Linked DNA regions of Homo sapiens. Each later gene encodes a partner of the first gene's protein in a complex. Each region holds a gene or a part of one and is shown on either strand. Other genes may lie near its edges. The genes, in order: CHP2 and SLC9A1. A codon is read from its position in the direction of its gene.

Region 1 (10,602 bases):
CTGGCTTTCCAGGAGGAAAAAGCCTTAACCTGTTGCAGTTACCAATGTCTGTGGTGTAAATATTCCTGCTATAGCCAGTTTCAAGCTGCTAACATATCATTGAAAGCAGAGTTGAGATGTTATGAGCACAACTGGTTCTCATGTGTTGATGATACAAGACAACCAAAGACCAGCTCTGGGAGGGAGAAAAACAGCAGGGCAATTACAGTGTCTCCCACAGGTGCAACCAGAGAGCTCTGCTGCAGACATAGAGTCTCATAGTTTTATGGGACTTCCTGCTCCATTCCATCTTATATCAATGTTTGAACATCTTACCATGAAAACAAGCTTACTCTTAGAATCTTCGAATGCATTCACACTCTAGGAAGGTATATATTGTTTATTATTTTTACATCGTCTCTTCCCTACTGCATCAAGCCCCATCATCCTAGCATGCACCCAGGAAATCAGCAAAAACCCATTTAAGAGTCCAGACTTCAAGGGTCCCTCACAGTAATGGGCATCTCTTGTTTTGCCCGAGCAGAGCAGACCACTCGTTTCCCCTTATTCTGCTAATTGTATTTCATTTTCCTTTAAGCAACCACCTTTCACCCCATCCTGAATCCTCAGACCTTATTTCCCTGGCTCTAGGAATTAGCACATGACACAGGCCTGGCCACTCAGAGTGTTTCATTCCCCTAGAAGTAGAGATGAGACCCCAAACGGGTCAATGACACTCTCCACTTGGAATTATTGGAATAAGTAAATCTCTTCCCACTGGGTTACTGGGTTAGCAGGATAGAAGCCTGGAGCTGATGGTGGTCATCTCCATCACTAGGAAAGAGCCTTCCTGAAAATCAGGCTTACAGACAGAAAAAGCTGAGCTGGGAGATGGAGAATAACTGGAGCCTGATGACATCATTTGTGCCCTTGGATCCAGCTGTGCCTAAAGGCAGATACTTCTGGACTTTTTAATTACCTGAATTCATAAAATTTCTTTCTGACTTAAGTCACTTTGAGTTGGGTTTTCAGTGATTTGCAACTAAAATATTGCTGGCTGATTCACAGCTCTGAGACCAAATGAGATAGACCTGGTGTGGGGTCTGTGGTCTGTTAGGAACCGGGCTGCACAGCACAAGGTGAGCGGCAGGCGAGCTGAAGCTTCATCTATATTTACAGCCACTCCCCATTGCTTGCATTACCGCCTGAGCTCTGCCTCCTGTCAGATCAGCAGTGGCATTAGATTATCATAGGAGCCCAAATCCTACTGTGAACTGCACACCAAAGGATCTAGATTGTGCACTCCTTATGAGAATCTAATGCCTGATGATCTGTCACTGTCTCCCATCACTCCCATATGGGACCGTCTAATTGCAGGAAAACAAGCTCAGGGCTCCTGCTGATTCTACATTATGGTGAGTTGTATAATTATTTCATTATATATTACAATGTAATCATAATAGAAATAAAGTGCACAATAAATGTAATGCACTTGAATCATCCCAAAACCATCCCCTGTCACCCATCCGTGGAAAAACTGTCCCTGATGCCAAAAAGGTTGGGGACTGCTGAGCTAGACTTTAGTACACATCCTTCCAGCTTTCTTCTCTTGGCCCTAAATAGAGTTAGAAACGAAAATACAGTTTATTGTCGCCCTGCGTCCATGCGTCCATGGGGGCTTTGGATGAATTCCAAGGAGATACTGGTTGCAGGAGCAAGCCCAAGGCACAAACGGAGTCACTTCAGGATCCGGATGCTCATTTTTTGCTCAACGTCCATCTTCTCTAAGGACTGAGGGAAAAACAAATGGCAGGCAAGAGGCTTGACTCTCAGCTCTCCATGCTCCCAACCTCCTCCCCCAGGGTTCTACCCATTCCAGAGACCCCATCATTCCCAGGCAACCCCTATCTTTCCGCCCTCCTCCGTTGAACGTTTCCCAAGTCTGTCTGCCCCAGAACTCCTGATCTCAACTCCCCAATCCCCAAGGGCACTCTGACCTTGGTGAACTCCACGAAGGACACAGCCCCATCCCCATCTTCATCAGCCTCCTGCACCGTGCGGTCAGCGATGTTCTCCAGCTGCTCTTCTGTCACCTGTACCCCAACCATCAGACGGAGAACCTGAGAGATGAGTGAAGAGGCAGCCATAAGGAGGGGGCACGAAGGCTGCAACTCCCCATCTCCTAAACCTTGCCCACCTCATCCCAAAAGTTATTGCTAATTTTATAATCCATCCTTCATCCATTTTTCACCATATCCCCCAATAATTTTCCCTACTGCTTCAACAACCAATCTCCTATCTCTCCCTCACCATCCTGCACTACCCTCAAAATATGCTCAAACTCATTACCCAACTTTATCACCCAACCTCCATCCATCCTCCACACCATTCTCCACCTTAGCCACTAAGGGTTTCTAATTCCATCCTCATTCCATCACATCTGTTCCAGAGTTTCTCAATCTTGGCACTGTTGACATTTGGAGCCAGGTAACTCCTTGTTGGAAGAGGCTCTCCTGGGTATTGCATGATATATAGCCACATTCCTGACCTCTACCCACTAGATGCCAGTAGCACACTCTCTCCCCCATTGTGACAACAAAAAGCATCTCCAGATATTGCCAGATATTCACTCAGGGAGCAAAATCACCCCCAGTTGAGAATCACTGATCTATTCCCAACCTCATAGTCAACTGCTCCCCACTCCGACTCCCAACAAACCCACACTCTAACTGCACCCATTCCCATTTCCCAACCAATACCCCAATTATCTGCGCCCCAGTTCCCCAATCATCCCACCCCATCTCTCACACCATTGCATTTAACCATCCCATCCTTCACACATCACATCTCTTGCTCTCGCTTTCTGCCAACCTGCAGCATCTCATGCCTGGAGATCTTCCCATCGCGATCCAGGTCATAGAGCTGAAATGCATCTGGGGAGAGGGTGGGAGGGGGAAAGGAAGGTAGGTCTTCCCTGGCTCTCTTCCAGCAGCCACCTTCCTTCCCCCCACCTTGGAGGAGGGGGGAGGTTGTCAATGCCCTCAGGAAGGGAGTGGGAGATCCCTGGAGCCTGTCCCTGGTGTGGGTACATCTGCATTCTCACTTGTGCAGGTCCTCACAAACTCACAGTGAAGTTTGTTCCTTCTGCTGTTGAGAGGTTCAGGTTTCTTGGGGTCTTGGGTTTCTGTGTCCTCATCTTCTACAGGGCGAAAATGAGCCAAGACCCTGACAAAGCCTGGGAAATCCACTCGCTGGCTCCTGGGGAGACGGGACAGAATGGAAAGAGGTGGTGGTCACCTTGGCCATCACTTTGCCTCCGTCTCTAACCTCCCCTCCCACCCACTCACACACCGGTTTTCCCGCCTTCACCTCCCCACGCCCAGCAAGCCTCACCCATCGGGGAAGAAGCTTTCTATAATTCGGTCTCCCAGGGGGTTCACGGCGAGCGCCCCTATCTGCTGGAGATCCATGCGGCTGCAAAGCCAAATTTCAAAGAGGGTAAGGCAGAGATGCCAGACGGAGGGTCAAAGAGGGACATGGAGTCAGAGAGACAGAGGCCAGAAGTTATGAGGCCGGCTCCCCCTCACCTCAGGTAGCCCTTCTTATTCCTGTCCAGTGCCCGGAACCGGTGGTGCAGGCGGAGCAGGCTGGCTTGGGAGACTGCGGGAAGGAGAGTGGGGTGGGGGTGTGTGACTCTGCAGGGCCAGCTCCAGAAACCCGCCCCAACAGGCCAGGAAGATGGGCCAGAACAGCGGGGGCTGGCTGGAAGGGGCGATCATCCCGGGGAATCAGGGGTTGAGCTGGCCGGGGCGGAGGGAGAGTGACACGACCCCGCGAAGATCCAGGTTCAAGACCCGGGCGGCTCGCAACCTCCCGAAAACCAAAGAACCAAAGCCATCCCTTCCAACCGCCGTCAGCTCTGCCTTCAGCTTCGAGCCGGGCTGGAGGACACCTGGGTGCCTGGATTCCTCTGGACTCCGACCCCGTGAACCCGGATCCTCCCCAGACTTGGAGGCTGGGACCCCTAGGTTAACCCGCCCCTAACCCAGCGATCCCAGGCACAGGGGCCTTGGTCTTCCAGCTCCGGGGAGCCCCGGACCCCAGACTTGTAAGTTCGTCCATCCTTCAACCCAACCCCTTCCCTAGCCCCAGACGCCTGGGTTCGCCCCGTCCCCTCCGCAGCCGCCGACGCGGGCGCACTCACAGCCGGTCTCTCGCCGAATACTGTCCCCGTCGGGAATGACCGCGGCGTGGGAGCTGCGCGACCCCATGGCCGAGCTGGAGGCGGAAGGGCCGGAGCAGCCACCCGGACCCACGCGTTCTCTCCTCCCGCCGGAGAGGCGTGGCCGCCCCAGTGGCCCCAGGGGGACGAAGGCCACAAGCCTGGCGCGCGGCCAAGCTCCAGAACCCCGGCGTGCCTCTCCTCCCACCCGCGACCCGGGCGAATGGAAAACAATGTGCAGGGTGGCGGGTCAGAGGGAGGCTGCGAACAACGGGCTGTTTCAGCTCCGAGATTTTGCGATCCGCACGGGAGAGGCTGGTCGAGTCCCAGGCCCCGCGTTTCCACGCCTCCCCCGGGGCCGGTTCCCACGGTGCGCCCTGACACCTGAGCCACCTCCTCCTTCGCGGGCCCCGGGCGCTCCCAACCCCAGGGCGCTCCCCGGCGTCGACGCTGAGGAAGCCTGGGAGACCTGACCTCCTCTGTAGAGACCACGCCCTGCTGGAAGGCGGGTGGCCTATGGGGAGGGAATCCTGGGGGGAGGGGGGAAGAGGCATCGAAGAACTCCCAAAGACGGGGAAGTGGGGAGGGGCGGCGAGATGAAGGGTGTGCGTTAGGTTAAGTGGAAAGAGCACTGGTTTGGGAGTCCTTGTTGGAATCCCAGCCGTGCCCGTGACTCTGGGAAAGTCAGTAAATCTTGGTTTCATCCCTTTTGTTCGGTTCACATTGCCTTATTGTTGTTTAATTGAGCCAATGCTTAAAATTCAGGAGATTTAACCCAAAATCCACATTCTTGGCTTTTCCTGAGAAATCAGAAGTTCTATCACCACCAGGCCCAGAGCTGTCTTCTGGCCACAGTCCCTCCAAGCCCAATTCACTCCCTTAGGTACCTACTGATCCCGTAGAGCTCCAGACTGGGAATGACTTAGTCCTCTGAACAGCCCTCCAGAGCCATGGGACTCCTTGGCCCAAGAGAGGGTTACAGACATCACTGGGACTAGGCTTAAAGCAAGAATGACAACAAGGGCTCTTGTTTACCACGCTTTGCTAAGCACTTTACGTGCATCCGTTCACACATTCCTTGTAGGCCCTGCTGGGCTGCTTTCTTCTAATTTTACGTGGTGGAGGCTGCCGGGGGCAAGTTGTGAACTAATTATGTAAAGCGTGCATTCTCAGTGCGGTCTCTATCTCACCCCAACGGGGCAAAAAATAAAACATATTTTTTATGTACAAAGCACAGCATACATACAGCACATAAATAGATATACAGTATAGCTGTGATATTGAAATTTCAGGGCAGACGTGGAGGCTCATGCCTGTAATCCCAGCACTTTGGGAGGTAGAGGCAGGAGGATTGCTTGAGCCCAGGAGCTCAAGACCAGCCTAGGCAACATAGTGAGACCCCATCTCTACAAAAGAATACAAAAAAAAAAAATTAACCAGGTGTCGTGGCACATGCCTGTAGTCTCAGCTACTTGGGAGTCTGAGACAGGAGGATCACTTGAGCCCAGGAGGTTGAGGCTGCAGGGAGCCATGATCACGCCATTACACTCCAGCCTGGGTGACAGAGTGAGACCCTGTCTTGAAAAGAAAAGAGGCCGGGCGCGGTGGCTTATGCCTGTAATCCCAGCACTTTGGGAGGTCGAGACGGGCGGATCACCTGAGGTCAGGAGTTTGAGACCAGACTGACCAACATGGAGAAACCCAGTCTCTACTAAAAATACAAAATTAGCTGGGCGTGGTGGTGCATGCCTGTAATTCCAGCTACTCGGGAGGCTGAGGCAGGAGAATCGCTTGAACCCGGGAGGTGGAGATTGAGGTGAGCCTAGATCGCGCCATTGCACACCATCTTGGGCAAAAAGATCGAAACTTGGTCTCAAAAAAAAAAAAAGAAAGAAAATAAAATTTCATGGGGTAGGGGTGAGGGTGGGGAAATTAAAAAGACTAGGGGAGGCGTTGATAATGAAAAAAAAACAGGTCGAGAAACTCATTTGTCAAGGGACAAACACTAGAAGTGTCCACTTTTGAAAGTATCTTTAAACCGTTTCCCCCATCATAATTGCACATACATACACAAATTTCCCAGGGGGGAAAACATGCAAGCAGTTCATTGCAAGGGCTCAAGTTCATATCCACCCTGGAGAGAGAGAAGCTGAAGAAACAGTCTATCCTCCAGCCCCAGGCAGAGGCCTGCATCAGATAAGTCTTGAAAATATTGATCTAAGAAGTGCTTGCTTCTTTCAGATACCCCCAAGGATTAAGCAACTGGCATAAGGAATGCTTGATTCTCTTTCAGACTCCCCCCAAAGACTAAGCATGCGGGAAACCACACTCCTCCCTAATGAAGCCCAGCAATCACTGCAACCCACAGCTGTGAGTCAGGCTGTGCATGTAGTTTGGGTTCAGTTCTGAACCCAGGAGGAGATGAGAGCCCTAAGAAGCTGTGATAAGCACCGCAGGCCAGCTTGGGATGCTGATCTTGGAAAGGGCTTCTCCAGCCTTAATATTGGAGTCAGTGCTACACCAAAGTAAATTAGGCCGGAGAGTAATTAGGAACTCCCATGCACACATCATACACAAGCTTTTAAGAGAGGGCTGGACCAGGCACAGTGGCTCACACCTATAATGCCAGCCCTTTGGGAGACTGAGGCGGGCAGACCATGAGGTCAGGAGATTGAGACTATCCTGGCTAACACAGTGAAACCCCGTCTCTACTAAAAATACAAAAAATTAGCTGGGTGTGGTGGCAGGCGCCTGTAATCCCAACTATTTGGGAGGCTGAGGCAGGAGAATCACTTGAACCTGGGAGGCAGGTGTGGCAGTGAGCCAAGATCACACCACTGCACTCCAGCCTGGGTAACAGAGCAAGACTCCATCTCAAAAAGAAAAAAAAAGAAAGAGAGAGAGAGCAGGCTATGCTAGAACTCATTTCTGTTTCATGTACACAAGTGAGACTTAAATCAACTTCACAGTTTTTTCAGGTCATTTAAGCGGGAAGATGCTTTGGGGAAAATTTTATCTGCAGAATCTGTTAGACTAGAGTCAGGAGGAATATTTGGTTTTTGCTTTTCAGCTATGTAAAAGTTGCTAGTCATTCTTTTTTTTTTTTTCTTATTTAATTTTTTGAGACAGAGTCTTACTCTGTTGCCCAGGCTGGAGTGCAGTGGCGCCATCTCAGATCACTGCAACCTCTGCCTCCTGGGCTTAAGCAATTCTCCTGCCTCAGCCTCCCTAGTAGCTGGGATTACAGGCATGCACCACCACACCTGGCTAATTTTTGTATTTTTAGTAGAGATGGGGTTTCACCATGTTGGCCAGGCTGGTCTCGAACTCCTGACCTCAAGTGATCTGCCCACTTCGGCCTCCCAAAGTGATGGGATTACAGGCATGAGCCACCACGCCTGGCCGCTAGTCATTCTTGGTGAAGGTTCAACTAGAAGAATGAACATCCAGGAATAGTCAGGAAAATACAGAACAATTAGCACTCAATAATAAAAAGATAAATGACCCAACTTTTTAAACGGGCAAAGGACTTGAATAGACATTTCTCCAAAAAAACATATATGTTTAGCCAATAAGTACATGAAAAGATTCCCCACATCATTCGTCATCAGGGAAATACAAACCAACCACAATGAGATATCACTTCATACCCACTAAGATGGCTGGAATTAAAACAAACAAAAACAAGTCTTAGTGAGGCTATGAAAAAGTTGGAAGCCTCATTCATTGCTGATGGAAAAGTAAAATGGTTCAGTTACTGTGGAAAACAGTTTGAAAGTTTCTCAATACACTAAACAAAATTACCATGTGACCCAGCAATTCTGCTCCTAGGTATACACCCAAAAGAATTGAAAATAGGGGCTCAGGCCAGGCACAGTGGCTCACACCTGTAATCCCAGCCCTCTGGGAGGTAGAGGTGGGCAGATCACTTGAGGTCAGGAGTTCAAGACCAGCCTGGCCAACATAATGAAACCCCATCTCTACTAAAAATACAAAAAAATTAGCCAAGCATGGTGGCACGCATCTGTAATCCCAGCTACTTGGGAGGTTGAAGCAGGAGAACCACTTGAACCTGGGAGGCAGAGGTTGCAGTGAGCCGAGATTGCACCACTGCACTCCAACCTGGGCAACAGAACGAGACTCCGGCTCAAAAAAAAAAAAGAAAGAAAGAAAGAAAGAAAGAAAGAAAGAAAGAAAGAAAGAAAGAAAGAAAGAAAGAAAGAAAGAAAATAGGAGCTCAAACAAAAACCTGTAGTGAATATTCATAGCGACACTATTCATAACAGCCAAAAATTGGAAATAAGCCAAATGTTTGACTGATGAATGGATAAGTAAAACATGGTATATTGATACAACGGAATATCATTTGGCCATAAAAAGTAATGAAGTATTATATATGCCACAAAATGGATGAACCTTGAAAACTCTATGCTAAGTAAAATAAACCAGTCACAAAAGACCACGTATTATATGATTGCACTTACATGAAATGTTAAGAATAGGCAAACCCGTAGAGACAAAAAGTAGGTTAGTGATTGCCGAGGGCTAAGGGAGGTAGGTGGGAGTCAGGGATAATAGCTAAAGTGTACAGGGTTTCTTATTTTTTCTTTTTTTTCTTAAGACAGGGTCTCCTATCACCCAGGATGCAGTGCAGTGGAGTGATCATGGCTCACCACAGCCTCAACTTCCTGGGCTAAGATGATCCTCCCACCTCAGCCTCCTTAGTAGCTAGGACTATAGGCACATGCCATCTCAACTGGCTAATTTTTTGTTGTTGTTGTTGTTTGTTTTCTTGTAGAGATGGGATCTCACTATGTTCCCCAGGCTGTCCTGGGCTCAAGCGATCCACCCGCCTCTGCTTCCCAAAGTGCTGGGATTACAGGTGTGAGCCACTGCGCCTGGTCCCAGGGTTTCTTGTTGAGGTGATGAAAATGTTCTACAATCGACTCTGGTGATAGTTTGGTTGCACATATCTGTGAATGTAATAAAATCTATTGCATTGCATGCTTTAAATGGGCAAATTGTGTGGTATGTGAATTATATCTCATTAAAACTTTTTTAAAAGAAAACAGCACAGAGAAGACAGTCAAACTTGACTCTCCAGAGGAAATAAAAGTTGTAACAAGATTTCTGTAGCTGAACCTACAGAGGGATCTTTTTTTGTCTTCTTAAAAACAAACTATAAAACAAAAAAAAAATTTGAAAGAAAAAAGTAAACAAAAAAATAAAAATTAAAAACAGAATAGCCAGGAAAGCTCTGGGACGAAAAGTAATGAGGGTGGGTGACATCAACATCATTAGTCATCAGGGAAATACAAATTCCTCTACCAGGAATAGAGAGGTAAGAAACAGGAATAAAGGGCCAGGCGTGGTAATCCAGAACTTTGGGAGGCCGATGCAGGTGGATCATGAGGTCAGGAGTTCAAGACCAGCCTGGCCAACATGGTGAAACCCCGTCTGTACTAAAAATATAACAACTAGCCAGGTGTGGTTGTGGGTGTGTGTAATCCCAGCTACTCAGGAAGCTGAGGCAGGAGAATTGCTTGAACCCAGGAGGCGGAGGTTGCAGTGAGCCGAGATCGCACCACTGCACCCCAGCCTGGGAAACAGAGTGAGATTCCATCTCAATTAAAAAACACACACACACACACAGAGACAAGAGGCCTTGTGTAGTGGCTCACACCTGTAATCGCGGCACTTTGGGAGGCTGAGGCAGGTGGATCACTTGAGCCCAGGAGTTCAAGACCAGCCCAGGCAACATGGCAAAACTCTATCTCTACAAAAAATACAAAAATTAGCTGGGCATGATGGTGCACAGCCTGTAGTCCCAGCTACTCAGGAGGCTGAGGCGGGAGAATTCTTGAGCCCCGGAGGTGGAAGTTGCAGTGAGCCGAGATCGCAGCACTGCACTCCAGCCTGGGTGACAGAGCTAGACCCTTTCCCGTGTGAAAGAAAGGAAAGAAGGAAGGAAGGAAGGAAGGAAGGAAGGAAGGAAGGAAGGAAGGAAGGAAGGAAGGAAGGAAGGAAGGGAAAGAAAGAAAGAAAGAAAGAAAGAAAGAAAGAAAGAAAGAAAGAAAGAAAGAAAGAAAGAAAGAAAAAGAAAGAAAGAAAGAGAGAAAAAGAGAGAGGGAGGGAGGGAAGGAAGGAAGGATGGAGGGAGGGAGGGAAGGAAGGAAGGAAGGGAGGGAGGGAGGGAGGAAGGAAAGAAGGGGAGAAAGTCAGAAATATACCCAAATATATATGGAAATTTGGCATTTGATAAAAGTAACATTTCAAATTAGTGACATTCAAAAATGTCATTTGGGTCCTCTCTCTGTCTTTTGGGAGAAAAAAATAAGGCTGTACTTTACCTTTTTATACCAAAATATAATAAATTCCAGATCGAATAGAGATTTCAATGC
Region 2 (10,741 bases), on another chromosome or scaffold:
GGCGCACGCCTATAATCCCAGCTACTCAGGAGGCTGAAGCAGGAGAATTGCTTGAACCCAACAGGTGGAGGTTGCAGTGAGCCGAGATCATGCCATTGCACTCCAGCCTGGGTGACAGAGCAAGACTCTGTCTCAAAAAAAAAAAAAAAAGAATAAAAGTAACAAATAGGAGAATTATACTGTATGTGAGAAGGTGAAACATGCTATACAAAGAAGAAAAAAGGAGCAGGGGAAGGGGCTGGGTGGTAGTGGTGGTGGCCAGGCAGGGGAAGTGTCACTATTACATAGGATTATAACATAGTAGGCCATGTCAGGAAGCGAGATTCGCAGAAAGGCTTGAAGGAGGTCAGGTAACCAGCCATGTGGATATCTGGGGAAGAGTGTTCCAGGCAGAAGGAATAGCAAGTGCAAAGACCCTGAGGCAGAAGTGTGTCTGCCAGTGTTTGAGAAATAGAAGGAGGCAGTGGTGAAGTGAGTGCCGGGGAGACTGGAAGAAGGCTTTGCTGGGCTGTGACATTATGATGAAAGAAGGAGCGGCTGAGTACAATGGCTTACCCCTGTAATCCCAATACTTTGGGAGGCCCAGGCAAGAGAATCAATCAAGACCAGGGGTTTGAGACCAGCCTGGGCAATATAGTAAGACCCTATCCCTACCAAAAATATTTTTAAAAATTAGTCAGGTGTGGTGGCATGTACCTGTAGTCCAAGCTGCTCGGGAGGGCGAGGCTGGAGGATCGGTTGAGCCCAGGAGTTTGAGGTTGCTGTGAGCTATGATTGCACCATTGTACTCTAGCCTAGGTGACAGCAAGACTCTGTCTCAAAAAAAAAAAAAAACAAAAGAAGGAAATGAACCCAGTCACTGCGTGCTGACTGTGTACCAGGAACTATGCTTGACATACAGTGGCCTTTTCATCCTTACAATAAACCTTACAAAGCAAGTAATGTGACTCCACCCAGCTTTCATATACATGAACACAGCGAGAGACAGAAACAAGGTGTGACTTGCTCATAATGCGCAGCTAATAGGGGCTGAGCAGATTCTTTCCTAGGGCCATGCATTTTGTGCCATAAAACTCCAGGCACTTTTAGTGAAAGGATTCAAGGAGGGGATTGGGGAGCAGACATGGCTTAAGCAGGGGGAGATGCCACCCAGGGTCCAGGCTTCCTGAGGCTGTCCTGGATCTGCAGGGGAAGGGTCTGCAGAGACCTGGCCTCTCCGAGTCAAAAGCAGTGTGGGCCTGGAATGGTTAAAAAATGAGGACTTGGCCGGGTGTGGTAGCTCACGCCTGTAATCCCAGCACTTTTAGAGGCCGAAGCAGGTGGATCACCTGAGGTCAAGAGTTCGAGACCAGCCTGGCCAACATGGTGAAACCCTGTGTCTACAAAAAATACAAAAAATTAACTGGGCATGGTGGCAGGCGCCTGTAATCCCAGCTACTCGGGAGGCTGAGGCAGCAGAATCGCTTGAACCCAGGAGGCAGAGGTTGTAGTGAGCTGAGATCGCGCCATTGCACTGCAGCCTGGGCAACAAGAGTGAAACTCCATCTTAAAAAAACAAAAAACAAAAAACAAAAAATGACTTGCTCAAACATGGTTACAAATATTGCTATGTATTTTAACTGATTTTTTTTTTTCTTTTTTGAGATGAGAGTCTTGCTCTGTCGCCCAGGCTGGAGTGCAGTGGCGCGATCTCAGCTCACTGCAAGCTCCGCCTCCCGGGTTCACGCCATTCTCCTGCCTCAGCCTCCCGAGTAGCTGGGACTACAGGCGCCCGCCACCACGCCCGGCTAATTTTATGTATTTTTAGTAGAGACGGGGTTTCACCGTGTTAGCCAGAATGGTCTTGATCTCCTGACCTCGTGATCCGCCCACCTCAGCCTCCCAAAGTGCTGGGATTACAGGCGTGAGCCACCGCGCCTGGCCTTGACTGATTATTTTTAAGAAGACAAGGCTTTTAAGGCCGAAGCGGGCGGATCACGAGGTCAGGAGATCGAGACTATCCTGGCTAACACGGTGAAACCCCATCTCTACTAAAAATACAAAAAATTAGCCGGGCGTGGTGGCAGGTGCCTGTAGTCCCAGCTACTCGGGAGGCTGAGGCAGGAGAATGGCGTGAACCCGGGAGGCGGAGCTTGCAGTGAGCTGAGATTGCACCACTGAACTACAGCCAGGTCGACAGAGCGAGACTCAGTCTCAAAAAAAAAAAAAAAAAAAAAGAAGAGGAAGAAGAAGATAAGGCTTTTAACATACAATACACATCAATGTGATTTATTTACAAATATTAAATTCATAGCAGCTGGTCTGATGGTGGGACCCATCTCACGGATGTGAGGGTCTGTTTTCCAGCCTGTCAATTTTCTCTGTGACTGAAGGCAGAACTTCATGTGGTTCCCAACATCAAAAGTCTACTCTTGAGGTCCTCGGTGCATGTAAATAAATAGAATGATGGTAAATATATGTGGTACTTGCTGGGGGCAGTGGTAAATGCTTCGCATACATTGGCTAATATCTTCATGAGAGCCCCATGAGGTTGACACTATTGTTGTCCCCCCTTATGGAGGAAGAAGCTGTAGAACAGGCACTGATTTGCCCAGGGTCTCATGACTAGTGAGCGGTGGTGCCAGAGCACTGAAAGGAGACCATGTGGCTACCCATGTTCGGCAGTCCCAGCATTTAACTATCCATTATTCTACACTGCCTGCCCAGGCTGGGCCTTGGCCATCGGCTCTCCCATGTGGTTTCTCCCAAGGCCTGTTTCCTGATATTGTTCTGTTGTTATAACCTTCTCCAGGCCGTGGAGGATCTCAGGGCTGGCATTTCCTGGTTGTCCTGGGATCTACCACGTCCCAGACTGGCACCCAAAGACTCACTGAGGCCTGAGTGAGGGAGAATTAGAGAGTGGGGAGCACACCAGTGAACGTTGCCTTCAAGACTGGAAAGAACAGTAGGTCTTGGGCTTCTGGCCCCAGGGCACCTGTGGAAAGTCACTCCACCAGCCCCATCCTTTCCCTCTTTTCTTCTTTTTACACTGAACCTGTGATGTTTTAAAAGGGTGCTGGACTTAGGTGTTAGAAACCTGACTTAAGTCTTGGATCTGCTTCTTTTTTTAAATTTTAATTTAATTTTATTGGCTCACTGCAACCTCTGCCTCCCAGGTTCAAGTGATTCTCCTGCCTCAACCTCCTGAGTAGCTGGGATTACAGGTGCCTGCCACCACGCCCAGCTAATTTTTGTATTTTCAGTAGAGATGGGGTTTCACCATGTTGCCCAGGCTGGTCTTGAACCTCTGACTTCAAATGATCTGCCCGGCTCGGCCTCCTAAAGTGCTGGGATTACAGGTGTAAGCCACTGTGCCAGGCATGGATCTGCATCTTAATAGATGTGTGACCTTGGGCAAATAGCTTTATGTCTCTGGGCCTTTGTCTTTTCACCTGTAAAATGGGAATGAGAATAATAGCTACTCTTTGGCCAGATGCGGTGACTCACGCCTGTAATCCTAGCACTTTGGGAGGCCAAGGCAGGTGGATTACCTGAAGTCAGGAGTTCCTGACCAGCCTGGTCAACGTGGTGAAACCCCATCTCTACCAAAAATATAAAAATTAGCTGGGTGTGGTAGCAGCCGCTTGTAATCCCAGGTACTCGGGAGGCTGAGGCAGGAGAATCACTTGAACCTGAGAGGTGGAGATTGCAAGTGAGCCAAGATCGCCACTGCACTCCAGCCTGGGTGACAAGAGTGAAACTCTGTCTCAAAAGAAAAAAATAGAATAATAGGTACTGTTTTTTCTGAGACAGGGTCTCACTCTGTCACCCAGGCTGGAGTGCAGTGGTGTGATCTCAGCTCACTGCAAGCTCTGCCTCCTGGGTTCAAGTGATTCTCGTGCCTCAGCCTCCCAAGTAGCTGGGACTACAGGCACATGCCACCACACCCAGCTAATTTTTGCATTTTTAGTAGATACGGGGTTTCGCTGTGTTGGCCAGGCTGGTCACAAACTCTTGACCTCAGGTGATCCACCTGCCTCGACCTCCCAAAGTGCTGGGGTTACAGGCATGAGCCACCGCACCCAGCCTAGCATTTGGATCATTGATAAACCTGGGGCACTTGGTTGTGAACTCTAAAGGGCTGAACAATTGTGAGGCATTATTGTTATTATTCTGATCCTTGCTCGAAATGCTCTTTGGTTACTTTCATTATAGCTGATGTTCTCCTTTCATCTGCTCCCAGATGACACAAGTCCCCTGCCCTTCTCTGAAGTCTCTTTTGTCATTTCCCAGGTGGCTGGAATTTGTGCCTGGAGAATGTGAGGTACAGAGAACTCAGTTTAGGCATGGGATTATAAAAAAAGAGAGAGAGAGAGAGAACTCAGTTTAATGTTGCCACCTTCAGTTACTATCATATCACTTTATTAATTATTTTATTTTTATATTCATTTATTTATTTTGAGACAGAGTCTCCCTCTGTCACCCAGGGTGGAGTGCAGTGGCACAATCTCAGCTCACTGCAACCTCCGTCTCCTGGGTTCAGGGGATTCTCCCACCTCAGCCTCCCAAGTAGCTGGGACTATAGGTATGCTCCACCACGCCCAGCTAATTTTTGTATTTTTTGGTAGAGACAGGGTTTTGCCATGTTAGCCAGGCTGGTCTTGAACTCCTGACCTCAAGTGATCTGCCTGCCTCAGCCTCCCACAGTGCTGGAATTACAGGCGTGAACCACTGTGCCTGGCCTAATTAATTTTTAGAGATGGGTCTCACTATGTTTCCCAGGCTGGAGTGCAGTGGCTATTTCACAAGCACAATCATAGTGCATTACAGCCTCAAATTCCTGGGTTCAAGTGATTCTTCTGCCTCAGCCTCCCAAGTAGCTGGGACTACAGGTGCATGCCACTGCACCTGGATATTATTATTTTATTTTACTTATTTTTTTTAAAGACAGGGTCTCCCTATGTTGCCTAGGTTGGTCTTAAACTCCTGGCCTCAACTGATACTCCCATCTCAGGCTCCTGAGTTGCGGGGATTACAGGCATGAGCCACTGCTGCTAGCTTATTATTATTTTAATATATTTTTCCATGGAAGGATAGCATACCTAGAAAAAGGTGCACACATCTTGAGTCTTCAGTGAGTTATCACGAAACAACTACGTCGCTGTAACCTTTGTAGCTATCACCCAGTAAAGAAATAGAACATTACCAGCATTCTAGAAGCCCTCATTATGTCCACTTTATGCCCCCTCCCAATTCCTACCACCTCCTTCCTCCCTCTGGCTTATCTCTGTGTTGCCAGAGCCCAGCACAAAGCCCTGTCAAGAGGCCCAGTAAACATTTGTTAAACTAAATTGAATCTCAAGTACTTGTGATGTGACCTTGAGCTAGACACTTTGACTGTTTTGGCCTTAATGTACTCTTCTGCAAAACAGGGACAGCATTTCAGTGATTTCTATACCTCCCAACCCTAGTTGTATATCAGAGCCTTTGAAAAAAATACTTTGGCACTACCCTGAAGTAATTGAATCTAAATCTCTGACGGTGGGTCCCCGAAAATGATATTTTACAAAAGATGATGATGATGATGATTACTATGATTGACAGGGTCTCCCTTTGTTGCCCAGGCTAGAGTGCTGTGGTGGATCATAGTTCACTGTAGTCTCAAACTCCTAGGTTCAAATGATACTCCTGCCTCAGCCTCCCAAGCAGCTAGGACTACCAAGCACAGCTAATTTTATCAGACAATGGTATTTATTTTTATTTATTTATTTTTTTTTGAGACAGAGTCTCGCTCTGTTGCCCAGGCTGGAGTACAGTGGTGCAATCTTGACTTACTGCAACCTCCGCCTCCTGGGTTCAAGTGATTCTCTTGCCTCAGCCTCCTGACTAGCTGGGATTACAGGCATGTGCCACCACGCCCGGCTAATTTTTTTTTTTTTTTTTTTTTTTTGAGACGGAGTCTCGTTCTGTCGCCCAGGCGGGAGTGCTGTGGCGCGATCTCCGCTCACTGCAAGCTCCGCCTTCCGGGTTCACGCCATTCTCCTGCCTCAGCCTCCCGAGTAGCTGGGACTACAGGCGCCCGCCACTGCGCCCGGCTAATTTTTTGTATTTTTAGTAGAGACCGGGTTTCACCGTGGTCTCGATCTCCTGACCTCGTGATCCGCCCGCCTCGGCCTCCCAAAGTGCTGGGATTACAGGCGTCAGCCACTACGCCCGGCCTAGACAATGGTATTTTAAAAAAGCTTTCCAGTGATTCCATTGTACAGCCATGATCCCTTGAACCTCACCAATTTCAACCAAACTATAGGTTCAAATTTAAGTTCCACTACTTAAAGCATGCCACTGTTGTGGGTTGAATTGTGTCCCGGCAAAAGAAGTTGAAGTCCTAATGCCCAGTGCCTATGAAGATGGACTAATTAGGATGCAGTCTTTGAAGATGTTCAGGTTAAGATGAGGTAATTACGTTGGATTTCTAATCCAATGACTGGTGTCCTTATAAAAAGGGGAAATCTGGCTGGGGGTTGTGGCTTACCCCTGTAATCCCAGCACTTTGGGAGGCCGAGGCGGGTGGATCACCTGAGGTCAGGAGTTCGAGACCAGCCTGACCAACATGGTGAAACCCCATCTCTACTAAAAATACAAAAATTAGCTGGACGTGGTGGTGGGTGCCAGTAATCCCAGCTACTCTGGAGGCTGAGGCAGGAGAATCGCTTGAATCCAGGAGGCAGAGGTTGCATTGAGCTGAGATGGCGCCACCGCACTCCAGCCTGGGCAACAAGAGCCAGACTCTATCTCAAAAAAAATAAAAATAAAAATAAAGTGTGGGCGGGGAATCTGGACGCAGAGACAGAGACACCAGGAGAACTCCATGGAATACCAGATAGTCCTAACAAACCACTGGAAGGTAGGAGAAAGGCATGGGACAGATTCTCCCTCATAGCTCTCAGCTGAAACCAACCCTGCCAACACCTAGATCCGACCTCCAGCCTCCAGAACTGTGAGACAATCAATTTCTGTTGTTGCAGCCACCCAGTTTGGGGTGATACTTTGTTACGGCAGCCCTAGTAAGCAATACAACTACTTGCATAGTAGCCAGGGGACTCTCTTCACCTGTTTCCTCATCTGTAAAAGTGGAATTGTAATAATGTGCCAGGGTGCATTCCAAATAGTTTACACGGATTGTCTCAGTCATTACATCATCCCTCTGACATAGTCACTATTACTGTCTCTACTTAACAGATGAGAAAGTTGTGAAACAGGTTAAGTAACTTGCTCAAGGTCACACGGTAACTAAATACATAAACTAATAATACATTCTTCACAGGATTATTCGAAAGCCCTTATGAGACTGCAGATGTGGACGTGAAATCGTTTTGTAAGTAGTCGGCATTTTACTCGCGTTAGTGAGGTTCTCTGTATATTCAGGACTTTTTTTTTTTTTTTTTTTTGTCATCTCTGACTCTCCTTCCTCTTCCTACGCGATACTTCTTTCCCTCGGCGACAGGGGCCGCTGCGCTGGGCGGGTGCCGACGGTCTCTCTAGCCCGCCGCACCGGCTGCTCGCTGGTGCCTATAAGTGACAGCGCCGGGCTCAGCTAGGCTTCAGTCTGCTGCCGCCGGGGCCGGGGCTAGGGTTAGTTCTGGAGCTGGACCAGGAGGAGCTGCAGCTGGGCCGGGGCGGAGCGCCGCGTCGCGCCAGGGCCGCGAGGAGGGGCGTGTTGCTGCTGGCCCACCGCGAGCCGCCCCCAGCCCGCGCCGAGGCGCCTTCCCGCCAGGCCGCCTGCCTTCCGCCTCTTTCCATTTCCCCGGAATCTCAGCCCGGCGCGCCTGGACCCCTGCCCCTCTCTGGGTGGAGAAGCTCCCGGCCGCTTCCCGGTTTCACTCCTTCTCAGCCTGGGCTCCCAGCCCCCTCTCTCCTTTTCCTGGACTGGCTCTCACCCCCTTCGGTCCCCTTCCTTTAGCTCAGGCTCCCTACCCCTTCCTTTAGCCCACAGCCCAGAGTCCCAGCTCCTCAGTCACTTTCCTCAGCCAAAGGTCCCAGCCTTCCTTCTTCCTTTCCTTTGCACTATCCCTATCCTGCCCCTTCCTCTATCCCTAGGGCTCAGTTTCCCACATCCGTCCTCCCCCTTCCCAGGCCCGGAGTTCCAGACCTTTTGGTCTCCTTTCGTGGTCGTTCCTGGGTCCTTGCCCCCTTTCCCCACTTTGGAGTTCCAGATTGCAAACCCAGCCTCCCTCCACCCCCAGAAAATTGCTTCCATGGAAATGCCTCTCTAAAACATGAACTTTTCCTAGAGACTACGCCAGTCTCTCTTCCCACTTGCTGACCCTTTGCTACCTATGTGCCCGGTTTTACTCTCATTTGGGTAAGGTCGAGGCTGGCTCTGGAAGCAGCACCATGGTTCTGCGGTCTGGCATCTGTGGCCTCTCTCCACATCGGATCTTCCCTTCCTTACTCGTGGTGGTTGCTTTGGTGGGGCTGCTGCCTGTTCTCAGGAGCCATGGCCTCCAGCTCAGCCCAACTGCCAGCACCATTCGAAGCTCAGAGCCACCACGAGAACGCTCGATTGGGGATGTCACCACCGCTCCACCGGAGGTCACCCCAGAGAGCCGCCCTGTTAATCATTCCGTCACTGATCATGGCATGAAGCCGCGCAAGGCCTTTCCAGTCCTGGGCATCGACTACACACACGTGCGCACCCCCTTCGAGATCTCCCTCTGGATCCTTCTGGCCTGCCTCATGAAGATAGGTAAGTCCCGTTTGCTCCGATGCTGCGGCCGCCACCAGACTGGTGAGCTTCTTGCCTCATCTCGCACCATTTGAGGCTGTCCAGGAGTAAGGATCTGAACTACCCCCATAAAGTAGGCAGTCTCCATCCTGCCACCTTGGTCCTTCTCAGGCTCCAGTTCTGTGGCTTCTGATCTGTGATCTGAGGCTTCCCAAGATTGGAGCCAGCACTGTGCACAGAAGAGAGCAGGATTAGAGAATGGGATGCCTCTGATCCTAGGTCCCTTCAGTAAGGCTTCCACGACTGGCAAGTCTCCTCTGGCTGGGCCAGACCCCCAGGGGAGCCAGGCACCCCGCTGTGTGTGAGACAGAAAGGAGTGTCTTCTGGCGAGTGGCACATTCTGCTCTGTCAACAGCAACCAGTGCAATTTATGACAGGCTTCACTGGAGCGTGTTCCAGGATGGAGTATATTTCTACTTGGCCTGCTTGAGGAGTTTAAGCATAGTGGAGACCTGGGCACAGGAAACTTACAAGTGTGGTGGAACACAGGGGATCCCCATATTCCCACCTTTCCTTCATCTCCAGAATGTTATCTGTCAGCTTTGCTTGTCCAGGCTAGTTAGGAGCCCCTGAGTCAATTTCCGGCCCAGGAATGCCATACTTTATAGAATCTGTGGGACAAGGGGCCCTGGAAATTTCTGAAGTCTGTTTTGGAAGTGGAGGGAGAGTAGAGGAGGTTGAGGCTTGGTCTGACCCCAGCTCACCCCCAGGTCGCTGCCTGGCTGTGTCTCAGGGTGCTGTCTGGCCTGCTGCTCAATCAAGTAGATGAGGTAGATGGGGGAGCCTAGGGATGTTCAGGCCTGAAGAGACTTTGAAACCTTCTTTTGGGGAGAAGGAAACAGACAACTTATTTGCTCTCAGAGTATTGGTCTCCCTGCTAGGCCTGAGCACTCTGTTCTGCTGAGTGATTGGGGGAGCTTACTGGAGCCTACATTGCCCAGAAGTCCCTGAAAGTGGTGTTCAGGGGGACTTTGACAACTGCCTTTGCATTTTCAGCTTGCCCCCAGCTGGCTGTGGAAGGCATGAGGTCCTGGGACTCTGCTGTCCCCTCTGCCTGAGATTTGGGTTTGGGAATTTGGCAGGAAACCTTCCAGCTCTCCCAAGGACATGCAGGAGCTGAGCGGTGCTGCCGGGCTGGTGTGAGGCAGGCTCTGGGACATGCAGCGGGAGGGAAGTGGTGCCTCTAATTTGACAGATCCAGGAGCTGGGTTCCTGGTGCAGGGCTCTTGTGCCAAGCTGGTCACAGTAGCAGAGCCTTACATGGAACTAAGCCATCAGCACCTATACCTTGATGGCAGTTAGCTTCCTGGAGAGAAATCAAGGACTGGACAAGGGGAACCATGTGTACTGATTCTGACATAAATGCATGACCTTGAATAGCTGAGGCCTTTTTCTGCAGGTCTCCCTCACCTGTGAAATGGTTAAGACTCTCAATTTGACCACACCAATTGAGTCATGAAATGTCGTCTGATTTGCTGTAAGAAGCTGAAGTGACAGTGATGTCATTTGACTGTGTGAGACCAGGAGGAGACCTCACAAGTGCAATCTATAAATTGCCTCCTGTCCCCGATCCCCTCACCTGCCCACCACACCTGGCATTACATTAGGGCATTCAGGGCTGGCAGACACACTTTGAGTGTCAGTGGCTGCTGGTGGGATGACAGCATGACTGCAGAGACCCCACTCTAGGCAGTCAGAAGTTTGTCCCTGCAGGCCTGGTATCTCTAGTGCTAATGAGGTCAGCTTGGCCTGGCCTGCTTTGTCACCACCCAAGTGCTGTGCCCGGGACCCTGGGCAGCTGGAGAGCAGAGATGGTGTCATGGCAACAATATCAGTCTAGAAGTCAGGAAAACCTGGCTTCTCTTCCTACCTCCCTCTGTCCTTGGACCAGTCACGCCTCCCTACCCATCAGTTGATCTTTGTGGTCCCTTCCAGGTGTGATATTTCTGTCATTCCACTGACTCTGGAAACTCTGGC

The links.
Region 2: the proteins of CHP2 (region 1) and SLC9A1 are in contact, whole or in part, in a crystal structure (PDB 2BEC), measured with the Homo sapiens proteins. Residues at the interface, in NP_071380.1 of Homo sapiens: Arg30 (codon at 3,619), Arg34 (codon at 3,607), Leu38 (codon at 3,595), Leu51 (codon at 3,443), Ile54 (codon at 3,434), Ala56 (codon at 3,428), Leu57 (codon at 3,425), Asn60 (codon at 3,416), Pro61 (codon at 3,413), Leu62 (codon at 3,410), Ile66 (codon at 3,398), Phe70 (codon at 3,386), Phe83 (codon at 3,212), Leu87 (codon at 3,200), Phe90 (codon at 3,191), Tyr118 (codon at 3,107), Ala119 (codon at 2,910), Leu122 (codon at 2,901), Tyr123 (codon at 2,898), Met136 (codon at 2,859), Val139 (codon at 2,099), Leu140 (codon at 2,096), Met143 (codon at 2,087), Ile156 (codon at 2,048), Arg159 (codon at 2,039), Thr160 (codon at 2,036), Glu163 (codon at 2,027), Ala164 (codon at 2,024), Phe177 (codon at 1,985), Ser180 (codon at 1,770); in NP_003038.2 of Homo sapiens: Ser517, Ile518, Asn519, Glu520, Ile522, His523, Thr524, Gln525, Phe526, Leu527, Asp528, His529, Leu530, Leu531, Thr532, Gly533, Ile534, Glu535, Asp536, Ile537, Cys538, Gly539, His540.

The regions. Positions count from the first base shown.
Region 1 is NC_000016.10:23,748,698-23,759,299, reverse strand, and holds CHP2 (calcineurin B homologous protein 2), read right to left. Parts: upstream 4,275-10,602; 5' UTR 4,251-4,274; coding exon 4,184-4,250; intron 3,640-4,183; coding exon 3,567-3,639; intron 3,454-3,566; coding exon 3,373-3,453; intron 3,238-3,372; coding exon 3,107-3,237; intron 2,913-3,106; coding exon 2,851-2,912; intron 2,100-2,850; coding exon 1,977-2,099; intron 1,771-1,976; coding exon 1,717-1,770; 3' UTR 365-1,716; downstream 1-364. UniProt on the Homo sapiens protein: Functions as an integral cofactor in cell pH regulation by controlling plasma membrane-type Na(+)/H(+) exchange activity.
Region 2 is NC_000001.11:27,151,967-27,162,707, reverse strand, and holds the start of SLC9A1 (sodium/hydrogen exchanger 1), read left to right. Parts: upstream 1-7,582; 5' UTR 7,583-8,373; coding exon 8,374-8,725; intron 8,726-10,741. UniProt on the Homo sapiens protein: Electroneutral Na(+) /H(+) antiporter that extrudes Na(+) in exchange for external protons driven by the inward sodium ion chemical gradient, protecting cells from acidification that occurs from metabolism.